3 linked regions of the Homo sapiens genome follow. The protein of the gene in region 1 purifies or fractionates together with the protein of each later gene. This does not show direct contact. Each region holds a gene or a part of one and is shown on either strand. Other genes may lie near its edges.

Region 1 (5,547 bases):
ATGATTTGGGTTCACTTTACTGAATTAATTCCATCTGAATACTCAAGTAAATTGGAGATGTTTTCCTCTAGAGAAGATTTGTGTTTGCTTCTACTGGCTGTCAATAATTCAACTAATTTTGGATAACTTTAGTCTCCTGGAAGGTCCTAAATTAATACAGAACACTCCAAATCAGCTCTCCAATTTTACTGACAGCCCAAGATTGATTTCTTCATCTTAGGATTGGTACCGGCATTTGTCTATCGGTCACCTCTGCCTTCCTTGTTCATGTATTCCTCATGGGCCTCAACTCCAGTTTGTGCTCCTCATTTAAAAAAAAATATTGTTTGCTCTACCTTTGGAATTTTCTTTATTTTTCTGGTGAACTCATCAATTATAAAAATTCTGTTTCTTTTAATAAATGTAGCCTCTATTTGCATCTAGCAAGATGATGCTTCAGAATATCCAGTCCAATTTGCTATCTTTTCTGACATTTGTCTTTACTTATGTTTCAGTGATAAATCTGTAGGACGTCAGGGCTAAAATCTGGCTAACATGAGTCATGTCCACTTACCATTTTCTAAGGAGAAAACTATAGAAGAGAATTAACAACATATGATCAAAGGAACTTTACAGTTTATGTAATATTATTTTATTGCCATTTTCATTATATTCAGTAGAAATAGTAGTACTAGAAAGAAGAAAATGAGATTTTAGGAACATAAAACTGGCTTTAGATATTTGAAAATGAGAGGAATTTTATGTTTACAGATTTCAAAAGGCTTTGATATTATATTTCAATGCAAACAGTAACTTATCGTATGATTTGGTTCATTAATAATTGGAGTGATGTTCAGATTTAAACATTTCATAGAATCTCAAATATGACTTCAGGTACCACATTTTACAGGGAAATTACTGTGATTCACCCACTAAATGATAGTGAGTAAATAATAACTGGGATCTGTAACTATAACCTAGGAGTCTTGCGTTCTAGTCTAATAACTGTTCTCAAAAATATCATTAACTTTTTGGGTATAATAAACAGCAAACTGCAGAATAAATTGCACATACTAAAGAGTAAGCAACAAAACAAATTGCACATGCTGTGCAGTATGCAAAGCCACAGAATTATCAATCTGAGAAACAACTGAATACAAAATAAAACACACAGTTGTGTTTTGATTAAGGCTCCTTTTAGGCAGTTTGCTTCAGCCAAGGCTGTGTAACTTCTTTGAGTTTCCATGTACTTTATAAGGCTCTGTTTGAATTCCTTTACTCTTTCATCTGATCCCACAGGTCCACATTTAGACCTCTGTATTAGGCTGTACAACCCATTGGTATAGTGATCACCATTTTTCTCCATCAACAGATCCTCAATACAGTCCATTAGTTCCTTCACTTGGTCATCCTGATTGCTCCCTTCAGCACGGTTATTAAAGGCACAGATTCGCCCACCACATGCTGCCACCAGCTTGCTTAGGGCTTTGTTATCTGAGTCGTGCATGTAATCCATCAGGGAGCCACCATTGAGGTCTTCCTTGTGGGTAAAGAGGACAATTGTGTGTCCCATGGCATCCTCTCCAAAGATCTCCTTCACCCTCTGTGCAGCCTGCTGGTCCTGTGAGGTATAGCGGCCCAGCTGAGTCACCAGGAGCAGCACATGGGGTCCTGGTGCAGACAGCAAGTAGCACCTCTGCACCTCTTTGTACAGAGCTTCACAGTGGTCCTTCCAAGAAAACATATCTGGTGTGTCAATAATGACAATCTCTCTATTTCCCCAGCTTCCCTGACTTTTGCTGCAAGTCTTAGTCAAGGTCTGGGAACCCAGCTTCGATTCAAATGCTTGCTTCCTGAGGATGCTGTTCCCTGCAGCACTTTTGCCAGTTCCTGTTTTGCCCACCAGGATGATTCTCAGCTCAGATCTGCTGGCACATTGGCCCTTTGCATGTGGTCCTGTGAGGAGCAAGTTTACTGTGTTATCGCTACACTGATCACGGCAGTGGAATATTTTTTTTTCCTTTCATTTCTTTTTCTTTTTTTTTTGAGACGGAGTCTCGCTCTGTCGCCCAGGCTGGAGTGCAATGGCGTGATCTCGGGTCACTGCAAGCTCCACCTCCCGGGTTCACGCCATTCTCCTGCCTCAGCCTCCCAGTAGCTGGGACTACAGATGCCCGCCACCGCATCCCGCTAATTTTTTTTTTTTTTGGTAGTTTTAGTAGAGACAGGGTTTCACCGTGGTATCGATCTCCTGACATCGTGATCCGCCCGCCTCGGCCTCCCAAAGTGCTGGGATTACTGGCGTGAGCCACCGGGCCCAGCCGGTAGTGGAATATTTTTAATGATAAGGAGGTATTCCCCGTTATGTAAAAAGATACTCGCACATCTATTTCACGTGAAATGAAAGCTAACTTGATTGCTGTAGGACTGCAGGGTATTGCCATGTTGGAGCCTAGGAAAACATACTTGGGGATGAGATGGATTTAGAGACATTTCTCATCATGTAATGGTTGCCTGAATCACTCAGTCCTGGATCTCTAGAAGAAAAGTTTTCTGGAGATCAGAGATGCGTAGGCAAGGCCATGGGTTCCATCTCAATGTGGGCCAAGTGACCTGGCTCTGTTTCAAGGCCAGAGGTTGCTACTTTGACCTTGGCTGGGCAGAGTGGGGTCATGACTACCAGGGAAGTGGCTGGACCAGCAAAATATTAGAATGAGCAGTGTAAAATTATTTTTATTAGTGAAGAAACAACTGATATCTTATAAAGGATATCATAATTTTGCTTAGAAAGCATGGCATAATTTTGGTATAAAATAGTCACAGAATATGGTAAACTTTCCTCTCTCCTTCCCCATTTCCCTTCAACGTGGGTAAGGTTCTGGGGAGAGGAGTGAATGGGGACAGAGGTATGAAGGAGCTTGAGGCTTTAGGGAAAAAATGTGTTTCAGACACATAAAAGGGGAAGGCATAGGAGCCATGGTGCCATTTCGCTGGTCCACATGGCAGTGATAAGAATGACTTGTCTAGGGCAGGTTCATGGAAGAACCAAGATGCAGCTTTGTAGTGGAGAGAGGAGTGATTTAACTTGCAAGGCAAGGGTGACTCTGGCTCTTGAGGGTTAACCCCTTGATTCCTTTACTGTAAGGGAGGAACATTTGACCTATATGAGTGAAACGGAATACCATGATAACAGGAGAATCTTTCTGGAGGGAATATCCAAACAAACTAAGACTCTCCTGCTAAGCTCATTGCCTTTTGCGGTTTAGCTGTTCCTTACTCTCATGTTGCAGAGAGAAAGTTGGAGAAGGAAAGTCTACATTGACCACAGAATATCAGAGCTTAGAAGGAACTTAGACTGTACAAAGAAAATGAGCTTTCTGAGAGGCAGCATGCAGTGGTGAAGAAAAAAAGAATCTGGAGCTGGATTGCTTAGTTTAGATTGTCTTTCCATTGCTAGTCATATGATCTTGGACAACTGATTAATTTCTCTTCATCTGGAGAAGATGATGGTTTACTCCATGTGGTGGTGTTCTAATGACTAAATAAGTTAATATATGTAAAGAACTTAAAAGAGTGCTGGTGCACTTAAGCACTTGGTGAAAATTAGGCTAGGATTGTTTATAGCAACCTCCTTATAGATGAAGTAACTTGCATGCAGGGGTTAAGTAACTTGGACAAAGTCACCTAAATAGTTAGTGAAATCTACCCTTTATTGAGCACTTTTAATGTGCCAGGATCTGTTCCAAGTGGTTTACCTGCATTACCTAATTTACTCCTCCTAGCAATGATATGATTTAGGGTTAGGTGCTGCAATGCCCACCAGTGGTCTTGTTCTTAGCTGGTTCAAATGACCTCTCGGGCTCACAGGACTGCCATGGGCCTCACTGGGACACTAGTCTACTCAGAAGAATGGAAAACTTCGCTTGCCAGAGGGACAATGTTGGGCCTTCCACCTAGTGGAAGTCTATGCAGCAATTCATGGAACACTGCAAACTGTCACCTAGGGAGGTCCCAGGGCAAGGAGATGGCATCTTGAGCAGTTATAGAAGCCACCTGGACTCACAGGAGCCAATGTCTCTTGTAGCAACTCTGGGGTTTAGCTTCCAGATTCCCTGCAAGGAACATGAGAGTTACAAGAGTCACTGTGCTCAGGGAAGTTCAAAACATAGCTTCCTAGCATGTATTTATAGTTCTTCCAGTATAGATATAATTCACCCATCAAGAGAAGTTTTCAACCATAAGCAAAGTTCCTAATAATGTTAGAGACATTTTACTCTTATTAAATTATTAGAGAATCTCAGCTAAAACATTTAACCAAAGATTAAATTCTCAGAAAGGGAAAGGGTTTGTCAACCTTTTTACCCATGGGTTCCTTTTATTCACCTTATTTTACACATAAATCTGCAACTTGCCCAATAACTTAGAGCCCATTAAAAGTAACCAGTTTTGTAAATGAAAAAGCTGGCATTTGAACCTGCCCGTTTTCTATGCCTGAAGTATTAGTGCTTTGCCATGCTGCTACGCCAACACTTGTTGCACATATTTAAGTATTTTCTCTTCCAGACAAATTGGCCAAAATTTATGGACATTTAATCTTATTTTCTGTAGGCCAGTGAAATTATGGCCTCACAGTAGACATGCAATGGACACTTGTACTTAAAAGGAAGCAGGCATTACATTACACATTTCTATATTCTGAAAACAGCAGCCAAGCAGCTCCTGATACACCGCGCTGGAGCTTGCTTAGAGGCAGCCAAATTGCACGTTTAACCTTCCTCTCGCCTATGAAAACAGAAATGAAGGGAGTCATTGAAGAGAAGCGGTGGGAGTCCTGAGTTGCTGGCCTCCTAGGGAGTGCTACCTCATTCTCTCCCATGGGGAGGGTATAGGGAAGAGAATTCTCTGCATCCAAAGCCAAGTGAGAGGGTCTCTAAATCATCCACTCATAAATATTGGGCATGTCACCAAAGTTGAGAGATAGGTAGGTCATTTCCCAGATGGGTGTCTGCTGAATGACAGAAACTGGTAAGCCTATCCAAGTGCAGCAAAGTGAAGAGAATTCTTGAGCAAATTTTTGAGAGGAGTTAGATGTAACCTGAAGTTTGGAGACATGTATAAACATGGAAATTGGTGTCTATTTCCTTTCTGGAGAATTCTAAATTTTGAAGGCTGACTAGAGCCACCTAGGAGACCAGGATAAGGAGTAAGCAGCAATGGCTTAGGGGGTTTCCCATGGACAGAAGGGATCTTACAGAAAATAACTAGGCACAGCTGCCTTGATGAGGCCCTGTCCAAAGGCCTGCCTTGTATGGCAAGCGGAGTGCAATTACAAGAGGAAGCCAGGGGTGCCATGAGGGTGGGAGCAGAGGTCTAGTTGGAGAATTCTGCCAGAGAGGGCGCAGCCTCTGGCGGGAAGCCTGCAACTTAGCCCTGTGGCGACTCCACAGTGTTCTCGCACAGTGGAGGGTGTCTGCTGTAATGGGGCATGGGATGGCGGTGAGGACTAGCCAGGAGACAACTGCAAGGACAATGGGACTCAAGCACTCCACCTTCTTTCTCCAGTCACCC
Region 2 (7,111 bases), on another chromosome or scaffold:
GGTAGTTGTAGAATTTAAAAGCATCACCCCATGTAGCTGAATGTTCAGGGATCACAGGCCACGGCTGCTTCCCACCCACTCCCAGCCTTCAGGGAGAGGGTATGCCTGTCAGCCAATGGGCAGAGTGCCAGGCTGCAGACCAGGGTCTGGGCCAGTCATTTATTTGTCCCCATGACCTGTGGCTATTGAAATGAATGCCCCCAAATCCATGCATCCTTTTGCCTCCTGCATGGCACACGGCAGACACTTCATAAGCTGGCTGTTGGGGAGAGTCTCAGGGAGCCCCATGGAAAAGAGAACCTTGGAATCAGAGTTGAATGACAGCTTATGGGTGCTGGAGGCCCCTGTGACCTTGACCGTGCACAATGCCCAGGCCAGCTAGGACTTTTTCCTCTCCTTAATATATTTAAATGGAGTCAATACTGGGGTCAGCTTCATGCACACAGCCTTCTTCAGCCCTAGAGGTGAGGTGATCTGCACAGCTTCCTGAGCAGGGTCCTCCCTGGTGGCTGAGGTGTGGAGGGCCCCAGCCAGGCTGGATGGAGGTTGACTTTGTTTCGGAGCCCTTGCTTGGACACCGGAGTGCAATGCTCGGGCCACACATCCTTGGAGGAAGGGCAGCCTGGAAGTGGTGGAACAATCTGTCATGATCATATTTTTGTGTAATCAAACACTCTTCCCATAATACCTTTAATGGCCGCATAGTGTTCTATTGTGTGGCTACACCACAGTTTAATGTCTCACTTTGTGGAACATTTCAGTTGACTCCTACCTTTTGTCACTAAGGACAGCATTGTCATGAAATTCTCAACAGCTACATCATTATGATGATCCATGATTCTCTTCTTATGGTAAAGTCCACAGAACTTCAATTGCTGGGTTAACGGATTTGTGCTCTTTAACACTTCAAGTACATTTTACCAAACGGCCTTTCTAAAAGTCTTGACCTATTTTCATTCCCACTAGAAATGTGTGAAAGGACCTATCTCTCTGCAACTCTTACATATGCAGAGCTGTGGTTGTTTTGGTGGGAGAAGAGCTTATCTGGTATTTAAAAGCTGTAAGTTTTCTATTTGAATTTGAATTTACCTGATTTCTAATGAGGTTAAACATTTTTGTTGCACATCAACCTGCCATTTGTATTTCACATGTACTTGCCTCATGTGGACAGATTATCCAATCCTTTCCCCAATATTACATTGTGGGTGTTCATCTATTTTTGTATTGGCTTGTAAGAGCTCTCTACGTATTAAGGGCATTAACCTTTGTCTGCCACATATGTTAAAACGTACTTCTCGGTTTATCATTTGCCTTTTAATTTTGTTTATGATATTTATTGTCTGGAACTGCATTAATGTCTTCTTGCTAGACATCTTCTCTTATATGACTCAATGACATTTCAAACTCTGCATATCCAAATTGAAATTCATTATTTCCCCCCACCCCAACCTGCTCTGCCTGCTGACTGGCTTATTTTTGTTAATGTCACCACCATTTCCCTAGTCACCCAGGCTTGAAATGTTGAAGTCATCTTTGATTCCAGCTCCTCTCTCTTCCCCTACATTTTGTCAGTTGCCAAAGCCTGTAGAGTCTATTTCTGCACTTTCTCTGGCAGGCAGCCCCTCGGACACCCCAGTAGTTCAGGCTCTCATTATTTCTTGACTGGACTTTGAACATAGCCTCCAAAGTTCATACTTTGCCTCTCTTCCATTCCCTTCTTTTCCTTGGCCCCTCCTGTGTGCTGCTACCACATCTATCTTCCTAAAGAGGAGCCCAAACACAGAAGTCACTGCTTCCCTGGTTACAAACCGGCAATAGCTCCCCGTTGTCTTTTGTATTTAATTACGACCTCTTAGCCTGGCCATAATTTCCTTTCAACTGAATCTCTCACTGTCTCAGCCAAGCTGCTCCCAAACAAACTCACTGCTCTCCCGCCTTTTGGTTGCTCAAGCCGTCTCTTCCTCCACCTGCCAAAATCCGTTCAAAAAGCTCCCACCTCACCCCACCTCCTGCTATCCCAGGGCTTCCTGACTCTCTGCATTAAAGTGAATTCTCTTTCCTGTGAACCTCCAGAACAATTTGCTTGAACTTCTCTTGTAGAACAAACCTTATTCCAGCATCTATCAGAGACAATAAGGGTCTTAGAATCTAGAAAACAGGGTCCTGGGAGGGCACAGTTCCCACACGTCTATTTCTTCCACAGGACCTGCACGCTGCCTTGCTGTTGGAGATCTGTGCAGTAGGCAGTTGTGGAATTAAAAGCAACACCCCATGTCGCTGAATGTTCAGGGATCACAGGCCACTGCCGTTTCCCACCCACTCCCAGCCTCCGGGGAGTCTTAGCCTGTGGAGTCCCAGGAAGCACATGGAAAAGAGAGCCTTGGAACCAGAGTGGAGTGACAGCTAAGGGGTGCTGGAGGCCCCTGTGACCTTGACCATGCACAATGCCCAGACCAGCTCCGACTTTTTCCTCTCCTTCACATATTTAAATGGAGTCGATATTGGGGTCAGCTTCATGCACGGAGCCTTCTTCAGCTTTAGAGGTGATTCTGCAGCCTGCACAGGAGTGTGCACTTGACACAGTCTATTTTTAGCCTCCCAGAGACCGTGACCAACATCCCAAGCTGAGAGTGGGCACACCTGCTGCATTCTAATGAGGCAGCCCCACTCGCCTTTGCCAGCCCGCCCGGGATCTCACCGACGTGAAATCTGATGTTGCTAAACTGGGAAGTCTGCTTATTTCCCAAGGGCGGTAGCCTAGGTACACTGGGAAGATGGGACCATCCCACTGCCCCCAGCTCACTCCCCTGCAGCCCTGGACACAGAACAGTCTTGGGACTGCGCGGAGTGATTCCACGGAGGGGTTGAAATAACTTGGCTTTCTTGATCTTGCTGTGTCCTAGGATTCCCCTGTTTCTCTTGCTAGAAAGGAGACAGTAAGTCTGAGCTGACCCAGCTCACAGACAAGAAAATCGAGACATAGAACAAGGACATGATGTATGTAATAATCATAAGCACTTACTATGTGCCAGCCTGTTCTAAAGTCTTTCCATATATCAACTCCTCCAAACTTTTGGACAAATTTTTCAGGTAGGTTTTATTATGATTTGTGTTCTATAGAGGAGGAAAAGCTGAGGCACAGTGATGACAAATTATTTCCCAAGGTCACACAGCCAACAAGCGCTGGGTTTCAGAGTCAGGCACTGTGGCTCCAGGGTTTGTACTTTCAGCCAGTTCGCTATCTGCCTCCTAGTATCTATTTTTAATTTTACTAGAGCCAGGATAGGACCCAGGAGCCTGGATTCCCAGCCCTAGAGGACTGACTACTAGATAATACTCCTTTTTTTATTTTTCTAGTTCAGCCCTGCTTTGAGGCCTTTACTGTGCCTTGTACATCTGGGTCTCCTGCACTCCAGGCAGAGGAGGTCTCCTGGCATAACTGCTTCTGTTGCAGTGTTTGAGCTTCTGGGCTCCAATTGCTGTCTCTGGGCTCCAGAAGCTCTGTGGACCCCCATCTCCTTCTCCCTGCTCCGCCTAGCCTGTGGAGGACCAGGGAGCAGACAGTGATGGGCAGCAGCAGTGGGTGTAGAGCTGGGCTGGGCCTCAGGATTGGGGCACCCAGAAATAGCAATAATTGGTTGTGTGGAGGCCATCAGTGTGGGTATCCACAGTGCTGAATTCAGGGTAGAACTGTGAATCAGAAACTAGGGGGCAAGACAACAGGTAGGAGACACCAGAACCTAAGACATCTGCATTTTGGGGGCCGTATCCTCTTCTAGCTTGATGCTGCCTGTTGAGTGGAGAGAAGCCCATGGGTTCACGTTCCTGAGGATGCAGGTGGGACTTCGTTTCCTCTAACAAACTCTTACTATATGCCTGGCCCTTTTCTAAGCACTTTGAAATACAAACTTGTCTAATCCTCAGGACAACTCTAGGAGGCAGGGACCATTTTATTCCCATTTTAGAGAAAAGGAAACTGAGGCACTGAGAAGTTCATAAGTTTGCCCAAAGTTGTATAGCTGGGAAATGGCAGAGCTGGGATTCAGCTCCGGAATCTACACTCTCAGGCACCATGCTGTGCTATGCATCTTTCCCTTTATTGAATGTTTCCTATTTGCCTTCAAAGGAAGATACTATTTTCCCCATTTCACAGATACAGAAACTGAGGCCTGCATTGCTCAGGTCACCTAGCTAATAAGAGCTGAAGGTGGGTGAAATCTAGGTGTGTGTGGCTCCTCGGTGGACTGCCATCTCTGGACAGATCACAGCCATGAGCCCAACTGCTGGGAGCTGGAAGGGCTCACCTACCTCCCTTTCAGGAAGGGCTGCTGTGGCTGCTTGAGGCCGGGCTCAGGGAGGGGGAAGGAAAGAGGACCGCAAGCCTCCGAGGGCGGGACCCCGTTGTCTCTCCTAACACCCGACCCCCTTCTCTTCCCCTCAGGTGAACAGCCCCCCCTCCCAGCCCCCCCAGCCCGTCGTCCCTGCTAAGCCCGTGCAATGCGTCCATCATGTGTCCACTCAACCCAGCTGCCCAGGACGGGGCAAGATGTCCAAGCTGCTGAACCCAGAGGAGATGACCTCGAGAGATTATTACTTCGACTCCTATGCCCACTTTGGGATCCACGAGGTAAAGTGTCCCGAGTGGGTGGCTAATGGGGCGAGGCTGACTCTGCTGTTCTGTTGTTTTCAGAGGCAGCATAGTGTGTTCAACTCCTTACCATGGTAAAGGGAGTGCTCCCAGTGTTCCTGAGTCCTCTGACCCTTTCTCCAATCCGGGGGGCCCCTCTGGGAGGGGGCCAGGCCAGGCCTGGAGCAGGGGAGCAGGTGAAAGTGTGTGTCTGTATACTCCACAGCCAGAGAGAGCACACAAGGTGCTTACGGTCCATTTGTTTTACATTCCAGCTCCCGTGTCTCTCCCCAGCCATAAACCCAGCTCATCCATTGTGGGCTGGATAGCGCTGGTCTTTGGACCAGGAGCTCAAATGCTGCAGTCAGAGTCCTGAGGCAGCAAGGACCTTTCAGAGGTCATGATGTGCATTCTTTTGACCAATGAGCACCTCCGGGGGAAGAGCTGCAGGAAGCTTTCTTGGGAGCTTGGCCCAGGTCTGACACCCTGATTGATTGTCTGGAAATTCTTATGTCTAAATGCCAGTTTACCCCATAGCAGGGAAGACTAATGTTGACTATGGAACAGAACAGAACCTCCTAACAAGAGGCATCCTGGCCATAGTGGGGGCCTAATGGTGCCCCTACTGTATATCTTTCATTATAATCTCCAGCACTCTCTCCAGCCACCCCAAATAAACAAGTAGGATTTACTGAGTGCTTGCTAAGTGACAGGCACAGTTCTAAGCACATTATACGTATCATTTCATTTAAACTCTATGAAGAAAATATGTCCGTGATCCTCTTACAGCATAAGAAAAAATTGAAAAAGGAACAAAAGTTTGCTTGCTGTGCAAATCGGTTTTCAAAACAAGTCTTGAAGATCTTCCTTCCACGTACTCACTGCTGTAAACTCTTCCTATGTGGAAATGATGACCCTGCCATTGCCGGAAGGGTGTTTAGTAATAATAGCCAGCTCTTTTGTTTGTTTGTTTCGTTTTAGTGCTTACTACGTGCTGGTGTTGTTCCAAGCATTTTATATTATTGGTTCATTTATTCTTCAGGTCAATCCTGCAAGGTTGGTGTTATTGCTTGTCCCCATTCTCCAGATGATTTAGGCCCTTAAGAATCAAATCAACCCTCATTCATCCTTGACGGTTTTTTTGTGTGCGTGTGTGCGTGTGTGAAAGGCCACAAGCTAGTAGATGGCACAGCTAGCAATCAAACCTTCACCTTTTGTTCCTAACCATCATGCCATACAGCCCTTAAAACAAGTTTCCTTTCTTTCCATCTGGAAACTGTAAAAATTAAATTGCCATATTTGTTCCTGCTGGTTCTTCTGCAGCCCTACATGGAGGTAGAGGGTGGAAGGAGGCCCCCCAGTTACTTCTAGACTCAGGGGCTCAGCCTCATTTAATCCAGGGAGGCTCAAGGTTTGGGTCCCTGAGAACTGTTCACCATGTAAAACCATTAAGCCTGGACCTGCAGGGGAGGAGGACTGGGGCCTGTGTTCGGTCCAGAAGGTCCTGGCCCAGGAGGGCCTGGACAGCTGAGCCTGCAGCTTCTGGGAGATAAAATGCCATCTCAGGGCAGATGGATGAACTCTTACCCCTTCCTTGACCCTGCTCTCCACTGGGCTAGGGATTCCTGGAGCCCCATCCTTGGCCTGTGAGAGGCTCTTGGGGGCAAAAGAGACTCTGCGAAGGCCCCTTCCTCAAGACCTTGTCCCTAATTAAAAGTCATGTTCTCCATGTGACAAGTTCTAACAGGCCTGTGGCTCTGGGTACCCATTTCAGGACAGATTCTTGGGAAAAGAGAGCAGTTCCAGGGACCCCAAAATGTCTCCTCTTGGGCCTGCCCAGAACTCCCCCATTAGAAACCAAACAACCATGAGGTGCACCTCAAGCTGGGTCTGCAGTCTCCCCTCCCCACTCGGAGCCTCCGTGATCGGCTTCTTGGACACCTCCCTCTGAGTTGCTAGGTTCCTGCTGAGCCACACCTTTGGCGTTTAGAGTGTGCTCCACTAGGCTATTACCGATCTCTATAATTCCTTTGGGACTTGGTGTCCCCAGCCTGTTACCTACAGCTTGGCACATTGTCTGGAGAGCAAAGGCTTGTTGACATGGCTGCTAATCCAGTCATTCAGGCGATGCCTGGTCAGCACCATGACCCAGCACCCAGGGGAGAGGACATCAAGTTTCACCAAATAAATACTAGACCAGTTTCCCTCAATTGTGTGTACTTATGGAAAAGTCAAGCTTGTGCATACGTATATATAAACATAGTGCGGGCTGAGCAGGGGACTTAGAGTATAAGACCTGTGAGTCATAGATCACATTCCTGTCCTGGGAGAGTGCTTAGCAGCCTTCCCATTGGGAAATACTTCTGGACATCTAGCTTAAATCCCTCCTGCTGCTGCTATAGACCATCTCATAGGTCCTTTAATGCAGGAACAGCTAGGTAACCTTCCTTCCCCCCGAGGTCTCCTTTTACCCTGTTTTCAGTT
Region 3 (7,858 bases), on another chromosome or scaffold:
AGGCTGGAGTGCAGTGGCACGATCTCGGCTCACTGCAACCTCTACCTCTTAGGCTCAAGTGATTCTCTTGCCTTAGCCCCCCGAGTAGTTGGGATTACAGGCACCCGATACCACACCTGGCTATTTTTTGTATTTTTTAGTAGACAGGGTTTCACCATGTTAGCCAGGCTGGTCTTGAACTCCTGGCCTTAAATGATCCACCTGCCTCCCCAAATGCTGGGATGATTGGCGTGAGTGACTGTGCCCAGCCCCTCAAGCCTTTTTTTTTTTTTTTTTTGAGATGGAGTCTCACTCTGTCGCTCAGGCTGGAGTGTAGTGGCATGATCTGAGTTAACTGCAACCTCCGCCTCCCGGGTTCAAGCGATTCTCCTCCCTCAGCCTCCCGAGTAGCTGGGATTACAGGCACATGCCACCATGCCCGACTAATTTTTTGTATTTTTAGTAGAGATGGGGTTTCACCGTGTTAGCTAGGATGGTCTCGATCTCCTGACCTTGTGATCCGCCCGCCTCGGTCTCCCAAAGTGCTGGGATTACAGGCGTGAGCCACTGCGCCCATCCTCAAGCCCTTTTTATAAGGGTATGAATTCCATTAATGAGGGTAGAGCCCTCTTGGCCTAATCACCTCGAAAAAGGCTCCACCTCTTACGACCACCACAATGGAGACTAACCATGGCACCAATCCACTTGTGTCTTGCAGGACATCGTGTGTATTTTGCTTGATGAATATCAGTTACTGAGTTTTGTAATTCCAGATCTATCTAAACACCACTCATCAAATCCTGCCAGCACCCCGGTATAATCCTTAAAGACAACAAACATTTCCTTTGTGAGCTAAACTGTCTCTCCTGACTTGTGAACTTCACAGGATGGTTGAGAGGGTCAAAGGAGGTGATAGTCCCAGCAAATGGTTCCTGTTGAACTCTTACTCTATGCGGTGCTAAGTGCTCCACGTGCATCAGCTCACTGGTACCCCAGCAACTCCAAGAAGGGACTGTTGTGATCCCCACTTTACAGTTAGGGAAACTGAGTCCCAGAAAGGTGGCATCACATTTCCAGAGCCACTCAGCTAGGAAGAAAGGGAACAAACCAGGTTGTGATTTATAATCCCAACCTCCTCTTCTCCCTCCCAACTCCTGATGCTGCAAAGCCTCTGGAGACAGCAGAGCTGCCCCTTTGTCCCACGTGGCTGCGCCCTGATGAACACACCGGACTTGTCCAAGGCAGCCTCTTGGTCCTCAGGGTCAGCTGGAGAAGCATTTCAATTAGACAGACAGCATGGCCCTGGGTGCCAGGCTGCTTGTTAGACGGCCCTTGGAGAGATGCCGGGACAGCCTGACTCTTTCGGGCAGTGGTGGTGACATTCCTTGTGGTGGGACTTTCCTGCCTTAGGCCAGGCCTCTTCAGCCTGGGGTATGTGACCCTCTGAGGTAGGTGAAGACTTCCTAAGGGTGCATAAGAGTGGATCACTCTAAGGATCCTAATTCCAGAAACTCAACCTCTTTCTTCTTTCCTCCCTGGGTATGGCACCGGTGGCCCCAGCGGCCCCATGCTCCTTCTCATTTCCCCTTTCCCATTGGACTCTGGCTACTTGGAAAGGGGAAAAGTCACTTAGTAATTTCTTCCTATGGATATATGAAGTAAATGGAAAAAAAAAAGAGAACCCCAACCATCCTATTAAGAGATACATTTTCCATACACTTTTAGTTATTTAATTACTTATAAAAAGTTTGTGGGCTAAGAGTGGTGGTTCACATCTGTAATCCCAGCACTTTGGGAGGCCGAGGCAGGCGGATCACTTGAGGTCAGGAGTTCCAGACCAGCCTGGCCAACACGGTGAAACTGCATCTCTACTAAATCTCTACTAAAACTACAAAAAGTAGGCCGAGCGCGGTGGCTACACCTGTAATCCCAGCACTTTGGGAGGCCGAGGTGGGCAGATCACGAGGTCAAGAGTTCGAGACCAGCCTGGCCAACATGGTGAAACCCCGTCTCTACTAAAAACAGATGGGCATGGTAGTGCACACCTGTAATCCCAGCTACTGGGGAGGCTGAGGCAGGAGAATGGCTTGAACCCAGGAGGCAGAGGTTGCAGTGAGCGGAGATCATGCCACTGCACTCCAGCCTGGGTGACAAAGCGAGACTCCATCTCAAAAAAAAAAAAAAAAAAAAAATAGCTGGGCATCGTGATGCACACGTGTAATCCCAGCTACTCGGAGGCTGAGGCAGGAGAATTGCTTGAACCTAAGAGGCAGAGGCTGCAGTGAGCTGAGATCATGCCACTGCACTCTGCACTCCAGCCTGGGCAACAGAGTGAGCTGCTGTCTCAAAAAAAAAAAAAGTTTAAGCCACTTCCCACGGCCAACTTCTATTCTTTTTTTTTTTCTTCTTTTTTTTGAGACGGAGTCTTGCTCTGTCGCCCAGGCTGGAATGCAGTGGCGCAATCTTGGCTCACTGCAACCTCTGCCTCCTGGGTTCAAGCCATTTTCCTGTCTCAGCCTCCCGAGTACCTGGGATTACAGGCGCGCACCACCACACCTGGCTAATTTTTGTATTTTTTGTAGAGACGGGATTTCACCATGTTGGCCAGGCTGGTCTCGAACTCCTGACCTCAGGTGACCTGCCTGCCTCGGCCTCCCAAAGTCCTGGGATTACAGGCATGAGCCAGTGCACCTGGCCCTTCCATTCATTCTTTAGATCGCAACTGAGATAGGGAGGAGAAGATCCCTCCCCACCCACAGGCCTCTGTGCATCCTGCATTACAGCCTTGGCCCACCCTGGACATAAGCTGCCTGCTTGCTCATCTGTCTCCCTGACTAGTTACCTGGACCACGGCAACAGCCTCTTCACTGGCTCTCTGCCTTCCATTTCTTGTGAACCCAGCAGCCAGAATGATCTCTGATCTGACCATGTTGCTTCCTGTGTAAAACCCTCTGTGGCTCCCTATTACCCCCCAGAACAGAGGCCAAACTCCTTACAACATTCGCAAGGACTTCACCTTCCAGTCTCTGCCTGATTCTTCATCCCTATCTCTCACCACCTTCCGCCATGTGGAATCCTTTCAGTTCTCCAAACTGACTGTTGTTTTCTGCCTAAAACACTCTACTCATTTTTTGCCTGGCCTAACTCCCTCAGTGCCCAGCTTAGACAAAAGCCTTCCCTGTACCACTGTCCGATACTTCTCTGCCCACTCAGCATTGAGTCTCACCCCTTTGTCGGCCTCCCCCATAGACCGTCAGCTCTGAGAGGGCAGGGGCCAACTCCGTCCCCTCCTCTGCTGTCGTTCCTGGCATCCAGCAAGGGGCCTGCCACCTAGCGTGCTGAATGAAAGAATGGACCTCGGGATTTCAGTGTGGAAGCCTGGGCAGGTCTGTCTTGGGGCCGCTGCATCCCCAGTGCTCAGTCTAGGGCGCAGCACGGAGAGTTCGCAACTGTTTCAGGAAGAAGGCAGGCGGGTGGGCCGACCCAAGAAACGCACATTATACCTCCGGCGAAGTGAAGGGAGGGATAACAAAGCAAAGCTTGAGGGCTCCGAGAAGCTCTGAAGAAAACAAATCCAGCCATAAGCCCACTCCTGTAACCCCAGGCTTTGGAAGACGGAGGCAGGTAGATCGCTTGAGGTCAGGAGTTCGAGACCAGCTTGGGCCACATGGCGAAACCCCGTCTCTACTAAAAACACAAAAGTTGGCTGGGCGTGTTGGCGGGCACCTATAATCCCAGCTACTCCAGCAGCTGAGATGGGAGAATCGCTTGAACCTGGGAGGAAGAGTTTGCAGCGAGCCGAGATCCTGCCACTGCGCTCCAGCCGGGGCGACAGAGCCAGACCCTGTCCCCAATATACATATCAGATAAGAAAAAAATATAAGAAAGTTTAAAAAAATTTTTTTTGGCTTTTTTTTGTTTTTTTTGAGACGGAGTCTCGCTCTGTCGTCCAGGCTGGAGTGCAGTGGCACGATCTCGGCTCACTGCAAGCTCCGCCTCCCAGGTTCACGCCATTCTCCTGCCTCAGCCTCCCGAGTAGCTGGGACTACAGGCGCCCGCCACCATGCCCGGCTGATTTTTTCTATTTTTCGTAGTGATGGGATTTCACTGTGTTAGCCAGGATGGTCTTGATCTCCTGACCTCGTGATCCGCCTGCCTCGGCCTCCCAAAGTGCTGGGATTACAGGCGTGAGCCGCCGCGCCCGGCCAGCCTTTTTTTTTTTTTTTGAGACAGTTTCGCTCTTGTCGCCCAGGCTGGAGTGCAGTGGCACGATCTCGGCTAACTGCAACCTCCGCCTCCTGGGTTCAAGAGATTCTCCTGCCTCAACCTCCCGAGTAGCTGGGATTACAGGCGCCCGCCACCACACCCATCTAATTTTTTGTATTTTTAGTAGAGACGGGGTTTCGCCACGTTGAGCAGGCTGGTCTCGAACTCCTGACATCAGGTGATCCGCCCGCTTCAGCTTCCCAAAGTGCTGGGATTACAGGCGTGAGCCACGGCGCCCGGCCAAAAAAAAAAAATTTTTTTTTTTTTTTTTAGATATTTTTTCACTCTTGTTGCCCAGGCTGGAGTGCAATGGCGTGATCTCGGCTCGGCCTCCCAAAGTCCTGGGATTACAGGCGTGAGCCACCGCGCCCGGCCCGAAAAAATTTTTTTAAAAGAAAAGGGAAACAAAACAGTCTCCTACACCTTCGGACCACTCCCAAGAACGATGGCACCGCCCTCCTCTCCGCCCCTCACCAACATGGCCGCCCCCAAGGGAGTGGGCGGGTCTGCGGGGCGGAAGTGACGCACGAGAGGAAGTCCGTCCTGCCGCTTGGCCGCGGGGCGCCTGGCTCAGTGGCTTCTGCGGGCTTCGAGGAGCGGGATGTTGCGGGCTGGGTGGCTCCGGGGCGCGGCGGCGCTGGCGCTGCTGCTGGCGGCCCGAGTGGTGGCGGCGTTCGAGCCCATCACCGTGGGCCTAGCCATCGGGGCCGCGTCGGCCATCACCGGCTACCTGTCCTACAATGACATCTACTGCCGCTTCGCCGAGTGCTGCCGCGAGGAGCGGCCGCTCAACGCTTCGGGTACGGCGCGCGCGCGAGCTGTGGGTCGGCGCTGCGGGGGGCGCGGGGGCGCGGGGGCGCGGAGGGACGGCCTCGTGGGCGCCTGGCACGGACCGGGCCCGTGGCATCTAGACGGCGGTGGTCCCAGCTGGGGTGGGCGGGGAGCGGATGGGGCGGCCCCGGAACCGTTCGCGGGAACGCAGAAGCGGTGCCTTCGCAAACAGTCTCCAGATCGTGGGGCTGCCCCAGCGCCTTTCTAAAGCTCCCGTTCCTTGGGATCACAGGTGGAAGAAACGGAAAGTAGGCGGGCGGCCCTTCTGCGCCCTGCCAACCCTATTAAGTAGTTTTCAGACGTGCTGCGTCGCCCAGAAAGCCCACATTTGGCCCCTGGTTTTCCTGCAGGTCAGCAAGGGTGGCTGGGATTAGCAAGCGCTCAGTCAAGCGATGGTTCATCTCTGAATGAATGAACATTTAGCTTCCTTATCAGACCCCGAAGCGTTAAGGACCTCCACATAATCTTGAAAGTGGCATCGTTTGACTGCCTCGGCCCTAGGGTGTGGCAGACACCCTGCTGTGTCCCTGGATAATCTGTGCTTCTTGCTTTGGCCAGCTAAGAAAGTGCTGCGTTGCTGATGCATTTTTAAGGTCTGTTTCTCTCTTTGTTCTGGGGCTGTTCTTGCAGCTCTCAAGCTGGATTTGGAGGAGAAGCTGTTTGGACAGCATCTAGCCACGGAAGTGATTTTCAAGGCGCTGACTGGCTTCAGGAACAACAAAAATCCCAAGAAACCACTGACCCTTTCCTTACACGGCTGGGCTGGCACAGGCAAGAATTTTGTCAGTCAAATTGTGGCTGAAAATCTTCACCCAAAAGGTCTGAAGAGTAACTTTGTCCACCTGTTTGTATCGACTCTGCACTTCCCTCATGAGCAGAAGATAAAACTGTACCAGGCAAGAGAACCCGCTATTATCTCGTCTGCAGGCCAGTCGGACTGGTCCGGGTGACCTGCTCACTAACTCTGGCCTCTGCTTCTCTTTCCTTTGTGTTGCTGTAGCCCCCGGCTCCACTGAGTTAAGGCACACTTAGTCCAGGTAGTTACAAAGCTCTCCTACAACATTTCTCTTACTTGGTTCCAAAACAGTCCAGTGGGGTAGGGGATGTTATTTCCATTAAAAGATGGGGAGCCAAGGGCCTGGCGCCGTGGCTCACGCCTGTAATCCCAGCATTTTGGGGAAGCCGAGGCGGGCGGATCATTTGAGGCCAGGAGTTTGAGACCAGCCTGGCCAACATGGTGAAACCCCATCTCTACCTAAAAGTACCAAAATTACCTGAGCACGGTGGCACGCACCTGTAATCCCAGCTACTTGGGAGGCTGAGGCAGGAGAATCGCTTGAACCTGGGTGGCAGAGGTTGCAGTGAGCTGAGATCGCGCCACCGTACTCGGTCTCAAAAAAAAAAAAAAAAAAAAGGCCTGGCACAGTGGCTCACGCCTGTAATCCCAGCACTTTCGGAGGCCGAGGGGGGCGGATCACGAGGTCAGGAGATGGAGACCATCCTGGCTAACACGGTGAGACCCCGTCTCTACTAAAAATACAAAAAATTAGCCGGGGATGGTGGCGGGCACCTGTTGTCCCAGCTACTCGGGAGGCTGAGGCAGGAGAATGGCCTGAACCCGGGAGGCGGAGCTTGCACTGAGCCGAGATCGCGCCACTGCACTCCAGCCTGGGCGACACAGTGAGACTCTGTCTCAGAAAAAAAAAAAAAAAAGAGAGATGTAGTCAGGGCCAGGTGCAGTGGCTCACGCCTGTAATCCCAGCACTTTGGGATCCGCCAAGGCGGGCGGATCACCTGAGGTCGGGAGTTCGAGACCAGCCTGACCAACATGGAGAAACCCCGTCTCTACTGAAAATACAAAATTAGCCGGGCGTGATGGCGTGCGCCTGTAATTCAAGCTACTTGGGAGGCTGAGGTTGCAGTCAGCTGAGAATGGGCCACTGCACCCCAGCCTGGGCAACAGAATGAGACTCTGTCTCAAAAAAAAAGAAAAAAAAAAAAGATGGAGCCTGGAGCCCAGAGGCAAGGTGACTTACTCCTACAATCTTTGTAGCAGAACAGGACCTTTGTAGCAGAACCAAAACCTCCCAACTCCCAGTTGACATGGTAGCCACCTTCTCTGGTGAGTGAAGGGATTCCACATCCCCAGCAGTGCAGTTGGTGAGAAGGGGCAGTCAGTCTTCAAGGATTTGCTCCGGTGTGGCTTCATTCAATGCTGCCCACCTCTGGTGCAGCCTCAGCTTTGCCTCTGCTCTTTGCAATGTAGCCTAGAGGTCTTTTTTCTCCTTAACAGGTTTTATTCCCTTTGTTCCTCCCATCCTTCATGTCCTTGGCATTGCTTTCTTCAAAGGAAGCCTCAAAGAACTGAACCTTGAGACTGTTTCTCCTTTTGAGATATTGTTTCCACATTCATTTTATATTAAGTTGTCTAGGAGGGTTAGTTCTCATTTAAATGAATGTTGTCCTTGTCAAGGTTAACATTCCCACTGGCAACATAGCAAGACTCCATCTCTACAAAAAATAAAAAAATTAGCCAGGTGTAGTGGCATGCACCTGTAGTCCCAGCTACTTGGGAGGCTGAGATGGGAGGATCGCTTGAGCCCGGGAGGCTGAGCCTACAATGAACCATGGTCATGTCACTGCATTCCAGTCTGGGCGACAGAGTAAGACTCTATCTCAAAAAAAAAAAAAAAAAATTCCTCCTGTTAGGTGGGGACTGAAGAAAGAAATAGAAACTTAACTGAACAAGGAAGTAGAAGTGTTTGCCCAACAAACTGACGTG

The links.
Region 2: the proteins of GIMAP2 (region 1) and PRMT8 purify together in Homo sapiens (affinity purification with mass spectrometry; 2 studies listed by BioGRID and IntAct, with this or other methods). This does not show direct contact.
Region 3: the proteins of GIMAP2 (region 1) and TOR1B purify together in Homo sapiens (affinity purification with mass spectrometry; 3 studies listed by BioGRID and IntAct, with this or other methods). This does not show direct contact.

Annotation. Positions count from the first base shown.
Region 1 is NC_000007.14:150,688,703-150,694,249, reverse strand, and holds the end of GIMAP2 (GTPase IMAP family member 2), read right to left. Parts: intron 1,936-5,547; coding exon 950-1,935; 3' UTR 609-949; downstream 1-608. UniProt on the Homo sapiens protein: The heterodimer formed by GIMAP2 and GIMAP7 has GTPase activity. In contrast, GIMAP2 has no GTPase activity by itself.
Region 2 is NC_000012.12:3,536,165-3,543,275, forward strand, and holds part of PRMT8 (protein arginine N-methyltransferase 8), read left to right. Parts: intron 1-4,441; coding exon 4,442-4,627; intron 4,628-7,111. UniProt on the Homo sapiens protein: S-adenosyl-L-methionine-dependent and membrane-associated arginine methyltransferase that can both catalyze the formation of omega-N monomethylarginine (MMA) and asymmetrical dimethylarginine (aDMA) in proteins such as NIFK, myelin basic protein, histone H4, H2A and H2A/H2B dimer.
Region 3 is NC_000009.12:129,798,367-129,806,224, forward strand, and holds the start of TOR1B (torsin-1B isoform 1 precursor), read left to right. Parts: upstream 1-4,817; 5' UTR 4,818-4,846; coding exon 4,847-5,045; intron 5,046-5,706; coding exon 5,707-5,972; exon of another isoform or gene 5,973-6,113; intron 6,114-7,858. UniProt on the Homo sapiens protein: May serve as a molecular chaperone assisting in the proper folding of secreted and/or membrane proteins. Plays a role in non-neural cells nuclear envelope and endoplasmic reticulum integrity. May have a redundant function with TOR1A in non-neural tissues.